2 separate regions of the Homo sapiens genome follow, and region 1 is linked to region 2. A link means that fine-mapping ties the variant in region 2 to the expression of a gene that starts in the linked region. Tissue or cell type: whole blood. Region 2 holds a variant in brackets; the other region holds the start of a gene. All regions are shown on one strand. Distances are from middle to middle.

Evidence for each region. PIP is the estimated chance that this variant, and not a neighbour inherited with it, causes the effect.
Region 1: it holds the start of SYPL1, and the variant in region 2 is fine-mapped to the expression of SYPL1 in whole blood (INTERVAL, PIP above 0.99).

What each region holds. Positions count from the first base shown.
Region 1 is chr7:106,106,925-106,118,007 of GRCh38, reverse strand. SYPL1 (synaptophysin like 1) reads left to right here and starts at 5,696. Exons shown (of 5, transcript NM_182715.4): 1 at 5,696-5,868. The coding sequence starts at 5,800. RefSeq lists silencers at 5,289-5,348, 5,429-5,918, 5,929-6,178 and an enhancer at 5,634-6,466.
Region 2 is chr7:106,065,557-106,076,639 of GRCh38, reverse strand. No RefSeq gene overlaps it. Among named protein-coding and RNA genes, the nearest start is that of SYPL1, 41 kb to the left of the region's middle. RefSeq lists an enhancer at 4,263-4,557. The variant C/T (reference allele first, on the strand shown) is at 4,766.

The DNA of each region.
Region 1 (11,083 bases), 41 kb before region 2:
CAGCTATGATCAAACAAACCAGAATGGAAGCCATGCAATGACTCTTAACAAGTTCACTGTGTACCTCCACAGTTTTTCTCTATGGTGAGGAAACAACAAAGTTCATGCCAGAAAGATTTATAACAATTCCTTTATGCCTATAAATAGTTCAGCAGCCAGGATGGAACATATAGAAATAGCAGTCAAAACTGGACGACTTCTCAACTTCACTAATACATCTACATCTTTTCCTCAATTTTCTCTTATCCCATTAATATTCAAAAATCATATCTGTCAGGCCCCACATTCACATAACACTACAAGTCAAACTTTTACCCCCTTATGCGTGGATAACTACTTTTTGGGTCACTGCCCATCCACATTTAATCCCAGGGGACCATGGGATCCCTCTATTTATGCAAACCATACGGGAATCTAAACTAATCACACCTATGCCTGGTTGTGAGGTTCCTCTTCAGGAGTTTCATTAAAAGGAACTGGGTTCTTCTTTTTATACAGATCTAACATATTTCTAGCCTTGTCTATTAAGTGAAGAGGCACTTACACTACAGTTGCAGCAATATCTGGAGTGCACATATATAACTCCTCAGACTTCGTAACCTCTAGCCAAGCTCCAAATTTAAAATCCTTCTTATGTTGGTCCCTCCAAAGGACATCAGAAGCAGTACTTAGTCTCCCATCATTTAGCATCCTCGCCAATAATAATCCTGTCATAGAGAAAAATGACCTAGGACATTCTGTAGCCAGTGCAATCTTTTGGTTTGCAGATATACCCATGCTTAAGTGCAGTATTCATAATCTCACCATCCTAGTCCAGCAATCTTGGGAAGCTACAATCACGGCCATTGAAGGCCAATGGCAGGCCCTGAACTCGCTGGCAGGGTATGTTTTGCAGAACCAACTCACTTAGGAGGTGCTTCCTGCTGAAGCAGGAGGCACCTGCATGCTGTTAAATAAAACTTGTTGCTTTTACATCAGTAACTCAGGTCAGGTAGAAGAAAGTTTAGAAAAGATAACAGACAACATAAAAATATTAAAGGGCCTTCAAAACAGAGTTCCTCAAGATTCCTTTTCAGCACAACTATTTCAAAGCTTCTCCAGTTAAATTTGGCCATGGGTTGCTCAACTTCTTCTGCCTATAATAAAGCTCATATTAGTTTGTTTATTTGCATACTGTATTGTTAATTCTACATCTGATTTTGTGTTTTCTAGGATACAACAATTTCAAACCAAAACAGTACTACAGCAAAGGTATCAGCTACATAACTTTCCTTTGAATGCAGCAGAACAAAATTTTAGGCTACAAATGCTGTTCTCCCATAGTCTCATAGCAACCCTGACCAATTTAAGTCCCAACTCAGGGATTTAGGTGTACATAACCTCCTGACCGACTAACAATCCTAGGTAGGGCCAACTATACACCCCTGGTCAGCAAGAAGCAGTTGGAAGATGAGACCTTTAACCACATGCCAAAGATTAGTCATTGTTGCTGTCAGGGTGTGAAGAAAGGTAGAGTCCTAATTCAGGAGAAGGAGTCAGGCTGGCAGGACCAGGGGAAAGCAAAACGAGAAAGCAGATAGATAAGCTATAAGTCTGCCTTTCTTCATGGTCCAGGACACATAGCCCTCATGTGTAAATCACTCACAATCTTCCTGTGCCGAGCTACCACCTGACTCTTGGCTGACAGAAAAATGCAAGTTAGCTCACTGCAACCTCGGCATTACCAATACTGCACAAAGTCTTCTTCAAGCGCAGAGCACAAGCACCATCCTATAAAATCCCTAGCAAGCTTTTGACTCTTTGCAGTCAGCTCCTCTTTCGCTGACCTGCCTGTTGCACCCTTGCAATACATTTTCCTACGTTCTCAAATAAATCTGCCTTTCTTTACCTACGACTGTCTTGGTAAATTCTTCTTACTGCCTGTACCACTGGCCCCAGATAGTTTCTGATCACCTGTGACACTCATTACATTAAATGTGGTTTCCTGGATTGGATCCTGGGGGAGTAAAAAAGACATTAGTGGACAACTGATGAAGTTTGAAAAATTCTTTAGTTTAGTCAGTAGTAACACATCAATACTAATTTTTTTTGTTTTGACAAATGTATGATGGTTATAGAAGATGTTAACATTAGGGGAAACTGGGTGAAGTGTATACAGAACTCTTTGTACTTTGCAATTCATAAATCAAAATATGTTTTAAAATGAAAAGTTTAAGAGGCCTCAGATTACTTTGAGATTAATTTACTGAGCCTATTAAATCCATCTATTGTACAATTTAAATAAATTTGGTTATCTTAAAATTTTTCTAAAATGATTATTGAATTCATTAGCGAAAACAAAACACCTATTTGTGTTTATAAGCAAAAGTCAGGTTTTGAATTTGGTATTAAACAATATCTTTTCAGAAAAGGAGATAAATATTGGTTGGGAATGAGTTACAAAGTCTCATCTTGCCAATAAGATGACCAAAACTTTGTATTCCCATTGAGAAAAACAAAAAATATTATAGTTAGCCAATGAGATGTCTAATATAGTTAATATATGGTTGACTAAATATAGTTTCCTTTCTGGCCTTCTGAGCATTCCTAAATCCCAAGTGTCACAGTCTGGCACATGTGTTCAAAGCCACAGAGAGAAAGTAAAACAATGACAAATTATGTAGGTAACTTAGCCATAATTATACCACCACAGATAAAGCTCAATAATACTACCTCAGATAGACAGAACCATTTTATATTACAGGGATTCTTTTCCAAATAGCCCTGGTAGAGTAGACCTGGAACATGTTGTTCCCAGAGCATCTGGCTCTTTCCTCAGATTTGAGGAACAAATCAGAAAATGACCAGTGTTGTAGTCAATGTGATACAGTCATCTGAACATTCTTCCCTGATTTTGAACAGTTGTGCCTTCAATGAGATGCTATTGTTTAAACACTTTTGTTTGAGGAGGATTTAAAAAAAAATCACAATTATCTTGTTGCCCAATCAGATCTCACTGGCTCTGCCAGTCACGGCCAGTTCCTTCTCAGGAAGGTAGGCCCCTGAGCTCAGCTGACTGGCAGAAGCAGTGCTAGGCTGTGACTGAAGGTGAGCAGTGGCGGCTCACTTCTGTTTCCTTCTGCTCAAGAGAGATTCTGCGAATGAGTTCTGATAAGTGACCAGATGTGGTTCTGCTCACCCTCGGTGGTCTCCATCTTTAAAATCGAGTGCCACAGGGCCAAGGAAGGAACCTTCTTAAAGTTCAAGGAGTTACTCTAGCACTGAAGGTTTCCTGAGGAAATGTAACCACCATGCCTTCCACTGGTGGGCTTGAACAAGAAGCAGGAGAGAAAGTGAGGAGAGGCAGACAGAAGCAACAGAAAGTTTAGCGCGGAAGTTGAGAAAGGGCCTGGCCAATTCCAATTTCTAAGGCCTTCAATAAACAAAAAGAAGAAGAGATGCCAATATTGGTTTACTAAGTCATGGTATGTTTTAGATCTTTAATTAATAAAGCTGCATGTGAACATATCTCTAATCTGTCAAGGCATATCTCATTTTGAAATAACATTAAGAGCTGGGCGCGGTGGCTCACGCCTGTAATCCCAGCACTTTGGGAGGCCGAGGTGGCGGATCATGAGGTCAGGAGTTCAAGACCAACCTGGCCAACATGGTGAAACCCCGTCTCTAATAAAGATACAAAAAAATTAGCCGGACGTGGTGGTACGTGCCTGTAATCCCAGCTACTCGGGAGGCTGAGGCAGGAGAATCGCTTGAACCCGGGGGTGCAGAGGTTGCAGTGAGCTGAGATCACGCCATTGCACTCCAGCCTGGGTGACGGGGCAAGACTCTGTCTCAAAAAAAAAAAATAATAATAATAACATTAAGAGTCTAATTTGAATATTCGTGAATATGAAGCTCAAGCTAAATAGTCTTACTATTCACTACTCCGTCCCCAGGTGCCTACCCAGAAGACCGCAACAGAATGAGAGTAAAAGCTTAGAAAAACGGGCTAAAGAGAACAAAAAGAGAAGTACTGAGAGGAAGATACAGAAACAAAGTAGAAAAAAAAGGAGAGAGAGGAAGCTGGAAGACCTGGAGCACCGCTCATCGTGGTCTCAGACGCACCAGGTAGCAGTGTATGGTCACCTTCCACTCACCTAGCCCTAAGGGGTATCTATGATGCTTTGTTGCTTAGTGGGAGAAATCTGCAACCATCCATTAGGAACCCGCTGCAACCCCCCCACCTCCCGGTTCAAGCGATTCTCCTGCCTCAGCCTCCTGAGTAGCTGGGATGACAGGCGCGTGCTACCACGTCAGGCTAATTTTTTTGGTATCTTTATAAGAGACGGGGTTTCACCATGTTAGCCAGGTTGGTCTTGAACTCCTGACCTCACGATCCGCCGGCCTCGGCCTCCCAAAGTGCTGGGATTACAGGCGTGAGCCACCGCGCCCAGTTCTTAATGTTATTTCAAAATGAGATATGCCATTAGGTGCTCATTGAGCACTGACTGTGCTGGGGACTGAGGAACGGGAGCCAAGATAAACATAAAGATTGTCTCTGTCTGCATAGAAAATGAAATGTATTTTTTGCACTCTCTGGACAGCAAACAAGGAGATAGGTCTCGAAAGAGAAAGGGTTCGCTTACTACAAGGACGTTCAATAACAGTTGTCAACCCTGACGGAATAACCTCAGTGGCAAGTAGCCTGCAAATCATATTCGTGCTTGAAATTCAGGTAAGTCCTTGGAAGCTGGTTTTTCATATACACGAATATGACCACATTCCAGCTGTCCAGGAACTTTCCAGGTACTGAAGAAGCCAGGAAGGAGATCACACTACCTTGGGGCTCCCGTAACTGCGTGCCAAGAGGAAAGTATCACCTAAGCCGAATCTTAAAGGGGTCAGCTTCTTGAAGAAAGATACCAACGATGCCTTAAAAAGAGGACTGTCGACCGACAGCGTAGAAGAGGTGAAAGTGTAGGTCACCGAGGGCCTGTCCGGCCACGCCTTTCCTTTTAGGTATAAACTTACTTCATTTTTCAACCATGGCTGCGATGGTAACTTTGAAAATAAACCTAATTTCCATACGAATATTTGGTGATTCACACTTTCGAGGCACCCCACAGCACGGTAGCCAGAAGTCTGTTGTTTTGCAATTTTAATCAAAGGCCCCTAACACATGCCTTGAAACACAACTTCATCTGTGCCAATACATTATAAATTCATAAAAAAGTTGAGATCTGTTAAGGGAAGGAGAGGTCAGCTTCGGTGTAGTGAGCTCAGCTGTGGTGAGCTCGGGGTCAAGTGAGGGTGTCTCTGAGGCCAGCGCCCCCAAGCTGCGCAGGAGCGGGCGTGGGCGCCCCCGGGTCAGGGCTCTTCGCAGTCGCGCGGGTCCGGAAGCGCGGCGCGGGCCCAACGAGCGCACGCGTACACGCGTGCGCAGGGGAAGACCGAGTGCCAGGGGCTGAACCGCAGGGAAGGGGGCGCGGCGCACGCAGTATGGCGCCCAACATCTACTTGGTTCGCCAGCGGATCAGTCGACTCGGCCAGGTGCGGCCTGAGGAGAAGCCTCCCGGTCTCCGCCCCGGCCCGCCCCTCGCCTCCCCAGCCGCCCCACTCCGTTTCCGCCCCAGAGTCTCAGCCAGCAGCTCAACCGCCGCCGCTCCGCCCCGCCCCGCCCCACGGCCGCCCGGGCCCGCCTCCGAGCCCGGCCAGCGCGCCAGCCCCGCCTGCCCTTCCTCGCCACCGGGCTGCTCTGGTCTCGTCGGTCCCCTCCTCCGCCCCGTCGTCCTGACTCTCTCTCCCTCCTTTCCTCAGAGGATGTCCGGCTTCCAGATCAACCTCAACCCGCTCAAGGAGCCACTCGGCTTCATCAAGGTCCTCGAGTGGGTGAGTGCAGCCCGCGCCGGCCAGGCCCGCCTGCCGCTCGGCGCGGCGCCCTAGGCGGGGAGACGGGGACCTGCGAGCCGGGACGCAGCCCTGCCGCGCGGGCTTTGAGGCCGCCGCCCCGGGACTGGGAGTGGACGGCAGGGAGGGCAGGGAGGCCGCGGCCTGGGCCGCGCGGGGCGGAGACGCCGCGGCGGGCGTCGAATCACGAGCTCCTCGGCCGCCTGGCTCCCAGGGGAGCCACCCTCCCACACCGGAGCTCCCCTCTGGGTGTCCCCGTGGAGTGGGAGTTCAAATTTCCCCTTGGCTCCACTGCCTCCCGCAGAGGAAGGGAAAACTTCCTGCTGCGGTCTAACCGAAACCCGGCGGCCGGCGTCGCGCTCTGCGGAGAGGCTCAGCGGTTACGTCCCTGCCGGTGCCCACTCGAGGTCTAGCTCCCTGGGAAGCCGATTTTGTCTTGTAGACGTGATTTGGCGAGCATTCCGTTCTTAATTTGTTTTTAAGATGGGCTCCGAGTTAAAAATAGTAAAAAAATAAACTGTGGGCCAGGGAAACTAAAGAAAGTCCTTTTAACAAAACGCATCGAGTCAGATCGGTTCACTTAATAACACGTTAGGAATGGACATCGAGTTTGTTTGGGGTATTTCCAAACAACATCCTGTTTAGAAAGTCAGCTTTTAGTCCTTTCCTGAGAACACTCACAATCATTAACATCAAAGAACGCTTATTAATTCGACCTTGGCAATGATCAGTTACTTGGAGGAGTTGGTGAATATACCAGGCACTGCGGGCTTCCTTCAAACTTCGCGGCCCACTACATATTTCTGCAGGCAAGTTGTGTTTATAGACAGCAGCATTTACATCCATAGCTTTTTCGCCCTTTTCCTTAGTGATAGAGTGGTGAAGAAGAATAAGAACTTTCAATTTCCTGTTCTAAATAACCTACCGAGGATGTTTTTAAAAGCAGCGTAGAAACTCAGTTTCTCTGATGGGTACCTAATGTGATTTCCTACTTGGACCATTGTAACCGCGCAAGGGGTTAGGCAATTTCACCATTCACTGAACATTTTGTGTGTTTTCTGAAAACTGAAGTAGTGCTGACTTCACACAAATGACTACTTGAAAGACGCATAAATAAATATACTTGATTTTTTTAAACCTAAGTCCAGATTTAAGTATAAAGAAAACCATGATTAAAGCATTTAAAAATTGCAAGAGGAAAATCTCATTAACGAGGCTAATCAAATATGAACGTTAAGAAAGTCTTATATCTAGATTTAGTCTCATTGAGGATTATAATTAAATGTATAACTAATAATTTAGATTTCCACTTAAATGAAGAGGCAGTTGTTTATATCTGTGCTTATATTTTTTGTCAAGTTTTTAAACAACTGTAGACTTAGCTTTTTCCTTAATATTTCAAGCACTAGTGATAAGTTCATTCGTGTTTTGATGTATTTTGAAAAATATCCCTTTTTAAGCATCTTACAGAAATACTTTCAGTTTGAACAGCTTGTTATTACACAGGAGAGCCTTTTATGAAAAGACTACACATTGTTAATGGTGTGGTAAATATTTGACTATTTTATACCAGATCTGTACTAAACACTAGCATACCACATGAATAAAACATGGTCTTTTTCTCATGATCTATTAAGGATGAAGGACATACAAAATACAAAAATGCCATGTAATAAACTGTGATAAAGGTGTATGCAAAGAATAGTAGAAGAAATGAGGGAGAGAGCATTTGCTTGGAGGAACTAGGGAGGACTTCATAGCTGAGAGAACACTTGAAGGATGGGTACTGGTTCACTTGGGGAGTGGCTTTCTAGGCAGAAGGAATCTTATGTTCAGTGGAAGGAAATGTTGAAGCAGCATAACCCTGTATGAGAACTTAAAAGTAATTGGGGGTTAGTTGGAATATATGCTAGGTTGGAGGGTACGGTTTGAGATTGTTCTGAAAAGATTTCAGAGGTCGGCTGCTTCTGGGGTTAATCTTTGGGAATCTGGGCCCTTTCCTTAGGAAAATGCATATGTGCAGGGTATGGAATATTGGAGTGTTTATTCCATTCAAGCCCAGAATCCCTGCCATAGGGGATGGGAACTTAAAGGCTTTAAACAAGTCAATGATACGACTAATTTTAGGCACTCATAATTCCTCAATCAATCGATTTCTCCCTCCAATTCTGACCTTTCCAATCCATCCCTCTAACTGCCGACAAAATGAAAATTTCTAAAAGGATGAATTGGAAAGGCTAGAATTGGAGGAAGGGAAATCTGTTGATTGAGGAATTATGAGGGCCTAAAATTAGTTTCAGTAGGACTGAAGGGGTTTACAAAAGGGGGTTACAAATTAGAATATATATGGAAGGTAACAAAGAGGGAGGACCCTAAGATGACTGCTGTCTTTCTGACTTCGTTGCCATTAGCATATTCAAGGTAATGTCATTAAGAGGAGGAGGAGCAGATTTTATGGGAAGTCAAAGGTTTCAGATGTATTGAGTTTGTGGTCTCTTTAGATCTTTTGGAGGTATCCTATAGGATACAGCTATATATATGGATCTAGAATTTAAAATATGAGTTTGGGCTGCAGATATAGCAGATATCTGCCTGCAAAGGAGAGAAGGAATGGTTAGGAAAATTGAGGGAAATAATGCCTTGGCATCACTATTAGAATTTCAAGAAAAGAGTACCCCAAAACGTAAGGTGCAATAGAATGGTAAAGTAAAATAAGGACTAGTTGATAAAATAAGGACTAGTTAGCAAGAGCAGTTTCAGTAAAATCAAAAAGCCAGATTTTAGTAGGCTGAATGAATGTGTGGTAAGAAAGTGAAGACAGCATAAACCGCTGTTTGACTGTGAAGATGGGAGAAATTTGGTGGTTACAAAAAAAAGCCACTAGTTCAGCTTACAACTCAGTTGCTTAAATGCATTCTCTGGAGACAACCATTGTATTTGGTATGCAACAAAAGTCTTTATTTGCATTTCCCATTTTATCCTACTGACAAGAGAACTCAAGGGTCAAGGTTTAATAAAATTTTTACTGCTTCATCAGACATTCTTAAGTAAAACTGGTGGGGGTTTTTTGTTCTTTTTTGTTTTTGGTTTTTTGTTTTTAACTGCAAGTATGTGGCAGTGAAATAGAGTTTGGTATTCTTCCTGATTCTTATTAAACCCGGCAGTTTTCCCCACCAGTTTATCTGCTTCATCAGTACAAATGTCAGCACAGTGTAAAAGGCAAATAATGTCTTAGTATCGTTAGGAAAATGTTTTACCTTCATGAACTCCTGAAAGAGCCTTGGGAGCTTTCAGGGGTCCACAGACCACGCATTGAGAATTGATGAGGTAAACACCACTGGGGACCAGAAACAGAACAGAAAATACGGCAGGGAGAAAGACTATTCCCAAATTTGGTAATTATTAATAAATCTGAAGAAAGCTCAACCAACTATCTGGATTTACGACTTAAATAGAGCTGAGTACTTAAAAGTGTAGAAATAAAGAGATATATATAGCCTCTCAAGACCTGGACCAATCTACTTGCAGGCTTAAGGTCTGGATTTGTGATAACGTGTATGTTCACTTATGTTGGTGGTTTGGGGGTCCCATCATAAGGTGTGTTTGTGGACCAGGGGACTCAGAAGGCCAAGCAGAAATGACCATGACCATAAAGCCGCTAGACAGGGATAGAAGCAGGAGGGGACAATCAAGTTGAGCCTATATCAAATATCCTAAAACACATGAAGAAAACTAATTTTTACTTAAAAATTCAAATTATGTCAGTGGCAACAAATGCTGTCAGTTTTCCACAGAGTGACAGGCTTACTTCAAGACAGCCAGCCAGATCAACAATCAGGATATTGATTCACTCCAGAAGACATGAAAATAGTAGAGCAATTAGAAAATGATTTCTATTTTTAAAAATATAAATTATATTTTAAATTTTTAAAAATATAGTCTCTGTCTTGTCCAGGCTGGAGTGCAGTAGTGTGGTCTCGGCTCAATGCAACCTCGCCTTCCAGGTTCCAGAGATTCTTCTGCCTTAGTCTCCCGAGTAGCTGGGATTACAGGCGCTCGCCACTACATCCAGCTAAGTTTTGTATTTTTAGTAGAGACGGGGTTTCACCATGCTGGCCAGCCTGGACTCTAACTCCTGACCTCAAGTGATCCACCCGCCTCGGCCTCCCCAAGTGCTGGGATTATAGGCATGAGCCACCGCGCCTGGCTGATAAATGATTTTTAAATAAATATATTTAGGTTCCTCAGAGATTTAAGGTGACATAAATGTGTTTTCAACATACAATGATTAGGAGTTAGCAAAAAACTTCTAGCTGTTTATTTCAGTAGGAACTCTAGAGTTTACTTCTCATAATCCAATTTTTTTTTTTTTTTTTTTTGGAGACGGAGTCTTGCTCTGTCACCCAGGCTGGAGTGCAGTGGCATGATCTCAGCTCACTGCAACCTCCATCTCCCAGGTTCAAGTGATTCTCCTGCCTCACCCTCCCAAGTAGCTGGGACTACAGGCGTGTGCCACCTTGCCCGGCTAATTTTTGTATTTTTAGTAGAGACGGGGTTTCACCTGGTTTCACCAGGCTGGTCTCAAACTCCTGACCTCAGGTAGTCCGTCCGCCCTGGCCTCCCAAAGTGCTGGGATTACAGGCGTGAGCCACTGCAGCCGGCCATAATCCAAATTTTTAAGGATTATGGAATTATCTTGGCAGGCTATTTAGAATTTTCTACTATTGTACATTAGAAGCAAAGGGAGATAGAGTGAAACTGAAGCACTTTGTAACTGACTTTATTTCCCAGTGGGAATAAACTGAAATACCACCATCAAAAACAATACTTTTTTGAAATGAATAACTTTAGTAAACATTTTGGACTTTGACTCATAAAAATCATACCTTGGCTCTAGGCATCTAATCTTTTGATTGTAAAGGCAAACGTGCTATAATATTTCATTTTAAGTGCTGAATGATCATTTGACTTAAAACCAGCATACATTTCTTTTGCATGTAAACACTCATACATAATATACTTTTATATCTATTTTTGAAGATTTCAGTTATCACTTTGATAAACTAAACCTTGGACAGAAAGAAATTTAAATAGATGATTTCAGATTAATGATGAAATTAAATAGCAATGAAGATCCTGCAACTAGAAACGTGTAAACAACACTCATAAACCAGGTGAATACTAGTATTCTCCAGTA
Region 2 (11,083 bases):
ATATACAGGGTGATACTACTTTTATCACCTGAGAAGACCCAATTACATATGATTTAGATGTTCAAGCATATTTGGTAAAACTCATCTTTAAAAAGCAAAGGAATGACAAACAACAGATTTAGAAGAGTAACCTATGTGAGAGAGCCAGAGGGCAGAGATAGAGTGGGTGCCCTTCCCTTTCCCTTAGGTCAAGGTAAAATGGTGGTGATATTCTAGTTCTTGGTTGGGCCTTGGTTTTACCAGGTGTTCATTACTAAATGTGATATAAAGTAAAATAAGGCCATTCACGGGCCAATGATGATAGTGTGCCATGAATCAAGAATTTTTATTAATTGCATTCTGTGCATTTGAATTCCATTTTGTGAAAAAACAACAAAACTGTACGAATTGCAAAGAAATGTTCCTGAATCCCACTATCATAATGCAGCAAGCAGTTCCTCTTAAAAGTCTCAGTTAATGACCTGGAGCACGCTTTTATGCTTTCCAGTGAAGTGTGAAGTGTTGCCTCTCTTGTCAACAAACTGTCAGTCAGCACTGCACCACTTCCAGCAGTTCTGAGGTCAGGGGAAAGATTTTGAAAACCTTGGCTGGGAACTTTAAGACAGAAACAAAAAAGGTGTCAGCTAAGGTTTCTTAGGGACAGTTGTTCATTTGTTTATTTTAAAAATCTGGTTCCAAAAAAGTCTCATTTAAATTCTAGGAAAAAAACAAATGAGAGTATTGCAAAGCAAATGTTTATTCTAAGTGCCAGGTCACATTTATATTGTAATGTGTTTTATACTTTTCTTGGGTGTAATTTCTTATTAAACTATTCTTTATAACTTTATAAAACCCACAGTTTCCACATAGCAATGTCGAAAAGCATTTTGATTTAGAAATAGCGAAAAAAAAGTAGTTTGGGAGCTAGAATGAATGTGCATTTAGAGTAGCATCCCAGGCCGGGTACGGTGGCTCACGCCTATAATCCCATCACTTCTGGAGGCCAAGGAGTGGGCATTACTTGAGCCTGGGCAACAAAGTAAGACACTGTCTTTACAAAAAAAAAATCAAAAAATTAAGCAGGTAGTCCGGGCGTGGTGGCTAACGCCTGTAATCCTAGCACTTTGGAGGCCGAGGTGGGCGGCTCACCTGAGGTCAGGAGTTCAAGACCAACCTGGCCAACATGGTGAAACCCCATCTCTACTAAAAATATAAAAATTAGCCAGGTGTGGTGGTGGGCACCTGCAATCCCAGCTACTCAGGAGGCTGAGGCCGGAGAATTGCTTGAACCCAGGAGACGGAGGTTGCAGTGAGCCAACGTGGTGCCACTGCACTCCAGCCTGGGCGACAGAGTGAGACTCCGTCTCAAAAAAAAAAAAAAAAAAAAAAATTAGCCAGGTATAGTGGCATGTACCTATAGTCCCAGCTACTCGGGAGACTGAGGCAGGAGGATCACTTGAGTCCAGGAGGTTGATGCTGCAGCAAGCCATGATTGTGCCACTGCACTCCAGCCTGGGTGACAGACTGAGATCCTGTCTCAAAATAAATAAGTAAATCAGTGTTCCCTTAGATGTGAGACAAGCAAATGCACAATGTCCACTGTGTCACGAGCAGGGCTACAGAGATTGGAAAGTGAGGACTTAAGCACTGAAAGAAAACCTGTTTGCTAAGTCTCTGCCGTGCTTCCAAAGCTGAAGTATTCCTGAACTTCAGTTTCCCCATCTGTTGAACTCGGGAACTAAGATATGCCTTCCTTACCTCAGAGTTAGTGTATTGAGAAAGTAGATGTGAGCATGTTAGTGGCCAGGCACATTCTGCCCATTACACAGTAAACCAATCACTGAGATGATGAGTTTGGCAGTGGAGAAAAGATTTTATTCTTGAGGCAGCTAAGTGAGCAGCTAGAGAATGCCTCTCAGGTCTGCCTCCCCGTAGAAGAGGCTTTATGGATATTTATGGGGTAGAGTAGCAAGGCGGTCCGAGGCATGGGGAAAGGTGACTGGAGTAAGGGAAAACAAGGCAATGAGTGACCTGCACAAGTGTAGTCAAGCTTCATGGCTCTTAACAGGATGCACGTTAACAAAATGAGATCATTAGCGTGATCTGAGGGTGGAGTTTTTGGCCCTCCAACATCAAAAGGTCACCCACTGTGAAACGGGAGGTTTCCCTGAACCTCCTTGCAGGACATGCAACAAGGGTGTGGCTCGTCTGTTCAGCCACTGTGTGTGCTCAAACCCTTTACGGGAGAGGGAGCACGCAGGCAGGTGCAGGAATCAGGGTGAGCGCTTTTGGGCACCGGCCCACCAGTGGTGTCTAGGGGTAGGAGCCTGCAACTCCTGAAGCCCCAGTGGATGAGCTACAGTCCTCTTTTAGCTCTGCCATCCGCAGATGGCTTAAATGTTAAACAGCTCAGTGCCGTCTTGGTACCTGGATTCTTGTCCAGTGTCCAGGGAGAATCAGATCACACACAGACTTGAAGGATGGTGAATGTGGGGGTTTTATTGAGTGGTGGAGGTGGCTGTCAGCAGGGAGCCGGAAAGCGGATGGAGTGGGAAAATGACCTTTCCCTGGAGTTTGGCTGTCCAATGGCCTATCTCTCCTCCCTGACTGCCCCAGCCAAACTCCTCTTGATGTTCAGATGCTCCTTCTTTACTCTCCTTCTCTGCCACGCCGTTCTGCAGCTCTTCTGCTCTTCTGTTTGTCTGCTCATCTGCTTGTAGAGCCTGGGGCTTAGGGTTTATATGACTACAGGATAGGGGGCGTTCCAGACCAAAAGGCAACATTTGGGCATGAAAACAGGAATGCTTGTTCTCATTCCAGGCTGCAGGTTTCCAGGCTTTAGGGTGGGGCCTTTGCCAGGGAACCACCCTCTTCTACCCAGTATTTCCCTGTCTCCTGTCCATATCAACTGGACATTCACACAGGTCCAGTTGAAGGGCTGGTGGTCTCAGCTGGTTTGAAGTGGACAAGGACTGACCCCCACTTCCTGAAAAACAACTGTTACCATGGTGAGCAATGCCTTAGAGTTGTTAACTATAAGGAAGCTACTGGCAGATATATATTATTTAGCTATATGGATTTTAAAATCAGCTAGAAGCAAGCGGCTAAAAGCAAGCAAGGCAAGATAAGCTTGGTGGGCCTTATAAGTTTAGTCCTCAGTTTCCATCAACAGCCCATGGTCAAGCAAGAGGCAGCAGGTGGGGTAACAGGAAACCAGTGGGATGCAGACAGTGCGCCCATGCCCATTTTATAGTGCTTGGAGCATGAGTTTACTATTTATAATGACCACGGAGTTTAGAGCTATTTTATTATTGCATTCCTGACAGAAATTATCAAATCATATCTGATGTGCTTGATGTCAAGTCCCTAACCCAGAATGTAAGTCCAAATTTATAACTTCATTATTTGTTTGTTTGTTTGTTTGTTTGTTTTGAGAGGAAGTTTCAGTCTTGTTGCCTAGGCTGGAGTGCAATGGCAAGATCTTAGCTCACTGCAACCTCTGCCTCCTGGATTCAAGCAATTCTCCTGCCTCCGCCTCCTAAGTAGCTGGGATTACAGGCGCAAGCCACCACGCCTGGCTAATTTTTGTATTTTCAGTAGAGACAGGGTTTCACCATGTTAGCCAGGCTGGTCTCAAACTCCTAACATCAGGTGATCCACCCACCTCAGCTTCCCAAAGTGCTGGGATTACAGGCGTGAGCCAATGCACCCGGCTATAACCTCATTATTATGATAAAAAACATACAAACCAGTTTGCAGAAACCTGTTTTATGATGCTCCAATTTATGTGGCAATTTCTAGAAAAAAATTTATGGTGATAAGTGAGAATTGTCAGTCACTGAAACATTAATTACATAGTCAGTGAAGAGCAGGTAAAATATACTTCTGGGCTTCACTTTACATTAGAGATGTTTTTCTGAAACGGTGCCTATGAAACAAATCCTTGTCCCCATTACTTCATATTTATCATTTCAAAGGCACTTTATCTTTATTTCTGGTTGATCACCCTTTGAGGGTGGCATTCCAAAATGTCAGCTCAAAATTTCCCTGCCCTTCGGTTTCTGTGACAAGTAAGTTAACGATCTGTAAATAAATCCTGAAATGTCCTCAGGAATCTGCCACTTGAAGGAATTCTATTAGGATTCTTCCAAAATGCAAACACTTGGCGTGTCATGGGCCTGCCTGAAGTTGTACGCTGGGCTTTCTGGAGGGCAGCAGACCCCTAAGAATAGAGCCCGGGCTTTCCTTTAGTTCCTCTCATTGTTTTTCAGGGACAAAAATCGTTATCTTATATTTTTTTTTTCCAGAGGAGTAGGAGGAAGATCTAAAATAGTTAGGTCTGGCAGCTTAATCTGGGTTGGCTGTCTCTGCCGGCAATCTGTAAAATGTGTTTTTCAAGGATAAGAAGTTTGGGCCCTGGGCCAGAGCTCATGTCTGTCATCAGCGGGAAAATAAATGATCTCTGTAACCTGCTGCTATGCTCTGTTTACCTTTGTGCTTAAACATGAACACCTTGCCTTCCATAGGCCCAGAGCTGCTCAAAGTGGATCCTTTGCTCTTGTCAAACAGAACCTTCATAAATCTGCCATTTGGGTGAGCATGGTGGGGCCAGCTTTTTGTGAGGTGAAACTCCAAACCAGCTTCCATTCTCGGGATTGGTATGTAGTTTTTTCATGTTGCCTAAGAGGCTCAGGAAGGGAACTTGAGGTATTTGTTTTTTCATGCCTGCAAAGGCCATTTCCTAAGAGGTGAGAAGCATATATGCATGCCTGCAAGTACCTGTGAA[C/T]GTGGGCCACTGAGAGTCTCTGGGGCAAGAGCCCTTCAGGGGAATCTGGTATCTATTCATTATGCAAAACTTCATTCTAGCTAGAACAGGGCCTGGGCTACACTTAAAGCTTAAAGGGATGTCTGTTAAACCATGTTTCCTGTTTCCTGTAGAACTTACCACACTAGTACTGAAAGTGTCATAGCTCAGAGTGGAAGGTTAACGCGTAAGAAAGGGACAGTATTGGCAGAAGGCAAGTGGTGTGACCACTTCCTTCTCCACCCTCTTCTCCCATCCCTTGCCTCCCTGGAAAAGCTGGTTTCCTCAGGAGTCACTCCTTCAGCAGCCGCACAAGGCACACGCCTCGGGGAAGCCGGGCACAGGCTGGGGTTGCCTCCCTCCTGCCCCTGCCCTGCCTCCTGCCCCAGCAGACAGTGAATAAGCCACCTGGTTGGCCCAGCTTCCCGCAGTCCCACTTCTCAAGCTAGGGTACATGTATCTAGGAGGACAGGACTGTGTCGCTGGGAGGTAGAGTGAGACGGATGACAGGAGCCACAGAATCAAAACAGCACAATCGACTCATCAGTTCTTTAACTTGTAAGTTCAAGTCAAACATTACTTTTTATTTTGCTTTACTTACTTGTTTTTTGAGACAGGGTCTTCTCTGTCGCCCAGGCTGGAGTGCAGTGGCACAGTCATGGTTCACTACAGCCTCCAACTCCTGGGCTCCAGTGATCCTCCTGCTTTAGCCTCCCAAGTAGCTGGGACCACAAGCATGCAACACCATAGCTAACTTTTTTTTTTTTTTAAGAGACAGGGTCTCACTATGTTGCCCAGGCTGGTCTCAAACTCCTGGGCCCAAGCAATCTTCCCACCTTGGCCGCCCAAAGTGCTGAAACTATAGGTTTGAGCCACTGTGCCTGGCCAAACATTACTTTTTATAATAAGACGAATATTTTTTTCTGAAATAAGGCCCAATGAAGCCCACCTTGTTTGTGTTTAAGAAGCCATGACCAAAAAGAGCACTACCCATTCCTGCCCAGGCTTGTTGCAGTCACCCATTTAATCGCTCATTCAACTTGAGTGTACTTATGGGGCTCTGGCCAACTGCCAGATGAGAAAGACGCAAGCCCCTCTCAGGAACTCACAGTGTAGCGAGGAGGTAATAGGTTAATGCGTGGTTTCCAGGGAGAAGTTGGAGCTCAGATAGGGGTCAGCAGGAGTGGTTAGGGAAGCCCAGAGAAAAGACCCCAACCCAGCTAGGCACAGCTAAAGAGAGACAGTAGGCACTGCACTGGGGGAAGGAGAGAACTCGTCTACCAAGCAGGTACACTGCCCTGGTCAGGGCTTGCCTGCCCTGGCCTCTGTTTCTTCACCTGCCAGATAGGCAGTTAGAGCAGTGACTCTAAGCCCCTGCCAGACTGATATGTCTGTGGCTCCCTTCACCCACATCTCTGCAGAGCTCAGTAGCTCTCAAAAGGTAGAGCCCAGCCTCAGGGCAGCGCGGTGGTGTATGCTGGGGCTGGGATGTGTCAGGGTCATCCTAACTCCAGGATGCAAAGGTGGCCATTGCTGGCCCCAGGGTTTCATAAATTGCTCCGCACGTGGAGAGTCTGGTGTTGGCAGCATTGGTTCTGATATCCTGCCAACTGAGCATGACGCACAGGCCAGGTGGAATTCAGGGCATGTGCTCACGGAGGAACCACCGTGGATTCTGGCTGTGGCAAAGGTGCTGCAGATTTGCGCCTCAGTTGATTTGTTCCAGGATGGCGAGCACCATGGCCAGCCACACCCCAGGGAACATTCCCCCTGCTCCCTCAGCACCCAGCAGCCTCGCAGCCCAGCAGCCCAGCCCCGCAGCCCTCTCTGGCCATTGATTGCTTAGGCAGTACCTGAAAGAAATCTCACCTCATCTGGTCAGCTAGCCTGGGCTTATCTGTAGGGAATTTCACATCCGCTTCCCCCACCAAAAGACACACATCATTTTGTGTAAATGTGAAACTTCAGGGACTCTTGCCTCATAAATGCATGTGTTTTTTTCTTGTATGCAGTGCTATTTTCAAGACCAATATTTAAGTCTTTCTGATGAATTCCTGCCCATCTGTCAAGATTTAGCTTGAATGGCCTCCTCCTACCCATTCTATGGGCTCCCATAGTCCTTTGTGCACTAGAGCTTGAGAGCACAGCCTTGCAATTTATCTGCTGACACGTCCATCTCACCAGCTGGTCCTGAGCAGATTCTCAAGGGCGGGAACCTTACAGTGGCGGGCTTCCATCACCTAATACTAAGGCCTCTGCTGACACCAAAACTCTGTAAATGTTGCAGTCAATTCTAAGTGTCTTTTTCTCAACTGTTCTCATCTTACTTTTTATGGTTTCAATGCCTTCCACAATGGTTTACTCTCTTATTTAGACTTCATCTATCTCACTGAATGGTGGTGTTGGGTCACCTGGGGTCAGAAAACCAGTGCAAAAATGCTGCCACTCTGGCTGTTACTATTACTGGAAGTGAAGAAACTGTCCTTCTTCTCTGACCCAGGAGCCTCATGTCTTCTACCAACATCCGTGAAATTTTGGCATGTGTGATTATTACCTGCACATGAGATAAGATCTCAGTTCTTGATGGTATGGAATGCTGCAGGGAGAGGAAGTGTGCGTGCACAGGCCCAGAGGCCTAGGGGAGCCCAGCCTGCTCTCGGAACTGCCAGGAGAGCAGATGACTGTGGCACACCCTTGCTGTGTGGGGTGGCAAGCAGCCTCTTCCTTCAGGCTTCTGCCCAAATGTGATCTCATTAGAATGGCCTTCCTTAACCATCCCAGCTGACACAGAATCCCACATCACTCCCTGTCTCCTATCTTGCTTTTCTGTCTTTCACATGTATACCACATCATCTCATATATTTGTTTGTTTGTTGTCTGTACTTCCCTACAAAATGGCAAATCCCATCGGCGAAGGAACTTTGTTTCATTCACTGCTGTAATTAATTCTACCACTTAGGACAGTGCCCCGCATAGAGAGATGAGGCTGTCAGGACAGGCAAGCCTGGTTTGCATCATGGGTTACAGCCTGTAAGCCATGCCAGGAGCCTGGGTGAATCCTGGGAGGTTTAGAAATTCTTTTAAGTATTCTATGATTTGCATTTTAGGGCCATGATCCCTTCAGCAGCTGGCAAGTTCATTGAAGGGAGGGCAAGACCACAGGAGTCTGGGAGAGCAGGTGGGAGGTGGGCGCATCATCTAGAAGGAGGATGTTAGTGTGGATTTAAGACACTGGGCTGGAGAGGAGTGGAGGAGTGTTAAAGCTATCAAGTAAGGAGAATTGACAGGGCTTGGTGATTGATTGGATGTAGAATGCAGGGGAGTAGTGGTCACAGATGGTGATTTGGGTGACTGGCAAATGGTTTAGGGGGGTTCAGAGGAAATGGGGGGTATACTTAGAGATAGGATGTTCAACTGGGGCAAAAGTTTGACTTACTATTATCTGCTGAACCGTGAGAAGAGCTGTTATCCTGTGATCATTTCTCGACATCAATCCGATGGCAAGTAGTCTGTTGCTGGTGCCAGGGTCAGAATGTGGGAGTGTCTTAGTCCTGCGGTTCACAGACCCCAAAGGAGAAGCAGGTTACAGGGATTTCTGGTAGTTGTTTCTGATGCCAGCTCCAGGTTAGACAGTCCTCATTCAACCTGACCCTTTAACACTTCTCCAATTTCTGTTTTTCAATATTTTTACGTTTTTAATTTATGTCCCATAAAATGCACAATTTTGAGCGCACATCACTGTGAATGTTTATCTACGCATACACCCATGTAACTACCCAAACCAAGATTCGCAACATTTCCACAGCCCCAGAAAGCTATCTGTGCCCCTTCCAAGTCCAAAGTAAGCATGCTTACCCAAAGGTAACTGCTATCTGACTTCCGTCATCTAGGATTAACATTGCTGATTCTTGAACTCCATTATAAATAGAATTACACAATATGTACTTTTTTATCTGTGTCTTGTTTCTTTCAACATCATGACTGTGAGGTTCACATTTCAAAAATTTGCTGTTTTTATAACTGTGTAATATTCCATCGTATAAATATGCCATAATTTGTTTACCATTCTCCTGTTGATGGGCATCTGGGTTGTTTGGAATAAAGCTGCAATAAACTTTCTTGTCCAAGTCCTTTTTGCAGCTGCTGTCTTTTGGCAATTCCAGGAAGGCCTGTGTTTTGTGTATGTGGATGCGTATTATTAAAGGAAAACCTTCTTGACAAGGCCTTGAACTCGCTGCTGGCCTCTGCCTGGGGTACCTTTGAGGATGAGCAGCTCCAAGGAGCAATGGACAGAAGCTCTAAATCACTAGTGACCAAGGGTAATGTCACATCCCCTCAATTATTTGTTTTTATTAGAGATCAGGAGAATTTGGGGGAAACCTAAAAGTGATTTTGAGCAGTTATTCTCATGCACTTATAAAGACTTTTACCTCTTGCAAAGGACCAGGGCTGGGGAAAGAGACAGAACCAGGATGTAGGTTGGGCCTCATGTACTTGGAGAATGGTATTGAACTCCCTACAGCATGTGGCCCCCAGTTAAGGGAATGGTTTTTCTATATCACAAATGGAAAATATTCTCATTTCTCTGTAATCATAGTCATAGTGTAAAGCATCCTTCGCTAGGGTTTGAATGAAAGAGGTAATCTCCTGATTTCTGCTAAAGAACTTCTCAAATCCTTCATTGCTGATGACTATGACATCCTCATAGGTGCCATTTTCCTCCTAACTTTTTTCCCAAATATTTCTGATCCACCCCAGCAATGCTACTAGTAAATATTCAGAGATTCCTAATCCTAGACTCCTCAGGCATCCTAGGTTTTAGAAGAGAAAGAGAGTTCTCTTTAGTTAAGAACTTGCTGTGGGCCAGGTACTATGTGAGGTAGTTTGCATCCATTTCATTATTTAATCTTTACAGCACAGTGAGATAGGTTTTATTATTCCCCTTTGATGGATGAGGAAACAGAAGTGCAGAGAGGTTCATTAATTTGCCCCAAATCACACAGCAGAGCCAGATTTGACCTGAGATATATTTGGCTTTCTTGCCTATAGCACATTGCTCCTTAAACTAAGTGTGTCTGGCCAGGTGCAGTGGCTCACACCTGTAATCTTAAAACTTTGGGAGGCCGAGGTAGGAGGATTGCTTGAGGCCAGAAGTTCAAGACTTGCCTAGGCAACATAGTGAGACTCTCATTTCTACAAAAACTAAAACTAAAAATAAAATAAGTGTCTCTGACCAGACCTCCTAGCCTGGCTCACACTGTCTCCATGGTACAAAACATTCATATGGTCGAAAAAAAGTATTGTCTCTCAAATGACTGTGAGATTCCACTATCCTTTTATAACTTCACGATATAGAAAATAGTCAAGCTCTTGAGGTTAAAGTAATGTAACTCAGAATCACATGTGGTCCACTGTGAAAAAGCTTAAGGTGACCCAGGGTGCAGCTGTGACTTCCAGAAACGTGGAGACCAAAGGGGAGCTACATAAGGTGTGGAAGGTGCCGAGAAGCACAGTCCCAGCTTGGGGCTGGGGCACTTCCCACCCACCCCGCGGGCTGTGATTAGCCCCCACACCCTGTCCTGGGCCCTGCACTGGCCGCTGCACACCACGCCCCTGCTCTTTGTTCCCCGGTAGCAGAGCCAGTATAATTTCATGCTTCCTAATTTCTGAGGATAGTGAATCAATTCCCCCCACCAGTTTGCCTAGAAGAAGAGCTTATTTAGACAAACGCCTCCAAGGAAACAGTTGTAGAGAGTCACTTAAGAAAACAAGAGGCTGCTAAAGGAATGCTCTGCGTGCAGTGTGGAACAATTCGCAGTCAGCATGGGCGCTCCTCGGCGGGGAGACGCTCCCGGGCAGAGTGAGCACACCTGCCGCACATCCTTCCCAAAAGGAACTCCGCTCATTCCGGACGCTGGACTGCAAATAAAAACAGCCAACGCTAGAGTCCTGGAGTCGGGGAGGGGCTGGGACAAAGGTGAATGAACTTTCCTCCTCTGGCTTCAGATCAGCCTTTAGATTTCTCAGAATGCCTGAGGTCATCTAAGTGGTCTCTAAGTTACTGTCACACCACCCCCATTTTAAGGGGGTTCAGGGCAGCGTGGCTGGTGGGACCCTCTCCTGGGACACTCCTCCAGGCGCCCCCCCCCATCCCCTGGAGGTATTGGACTGAAAACAAACTGCTCGCTTTAGGGGACAAAGGGCACTGGGGGGTTGAGGCTGCAGAGAGGGAACCCCGGGAGGAGAAATGGCCTCGGGAGAGTGGATTCCAGCTTCCATAGAAGGCTGGGAAGGAGCCAC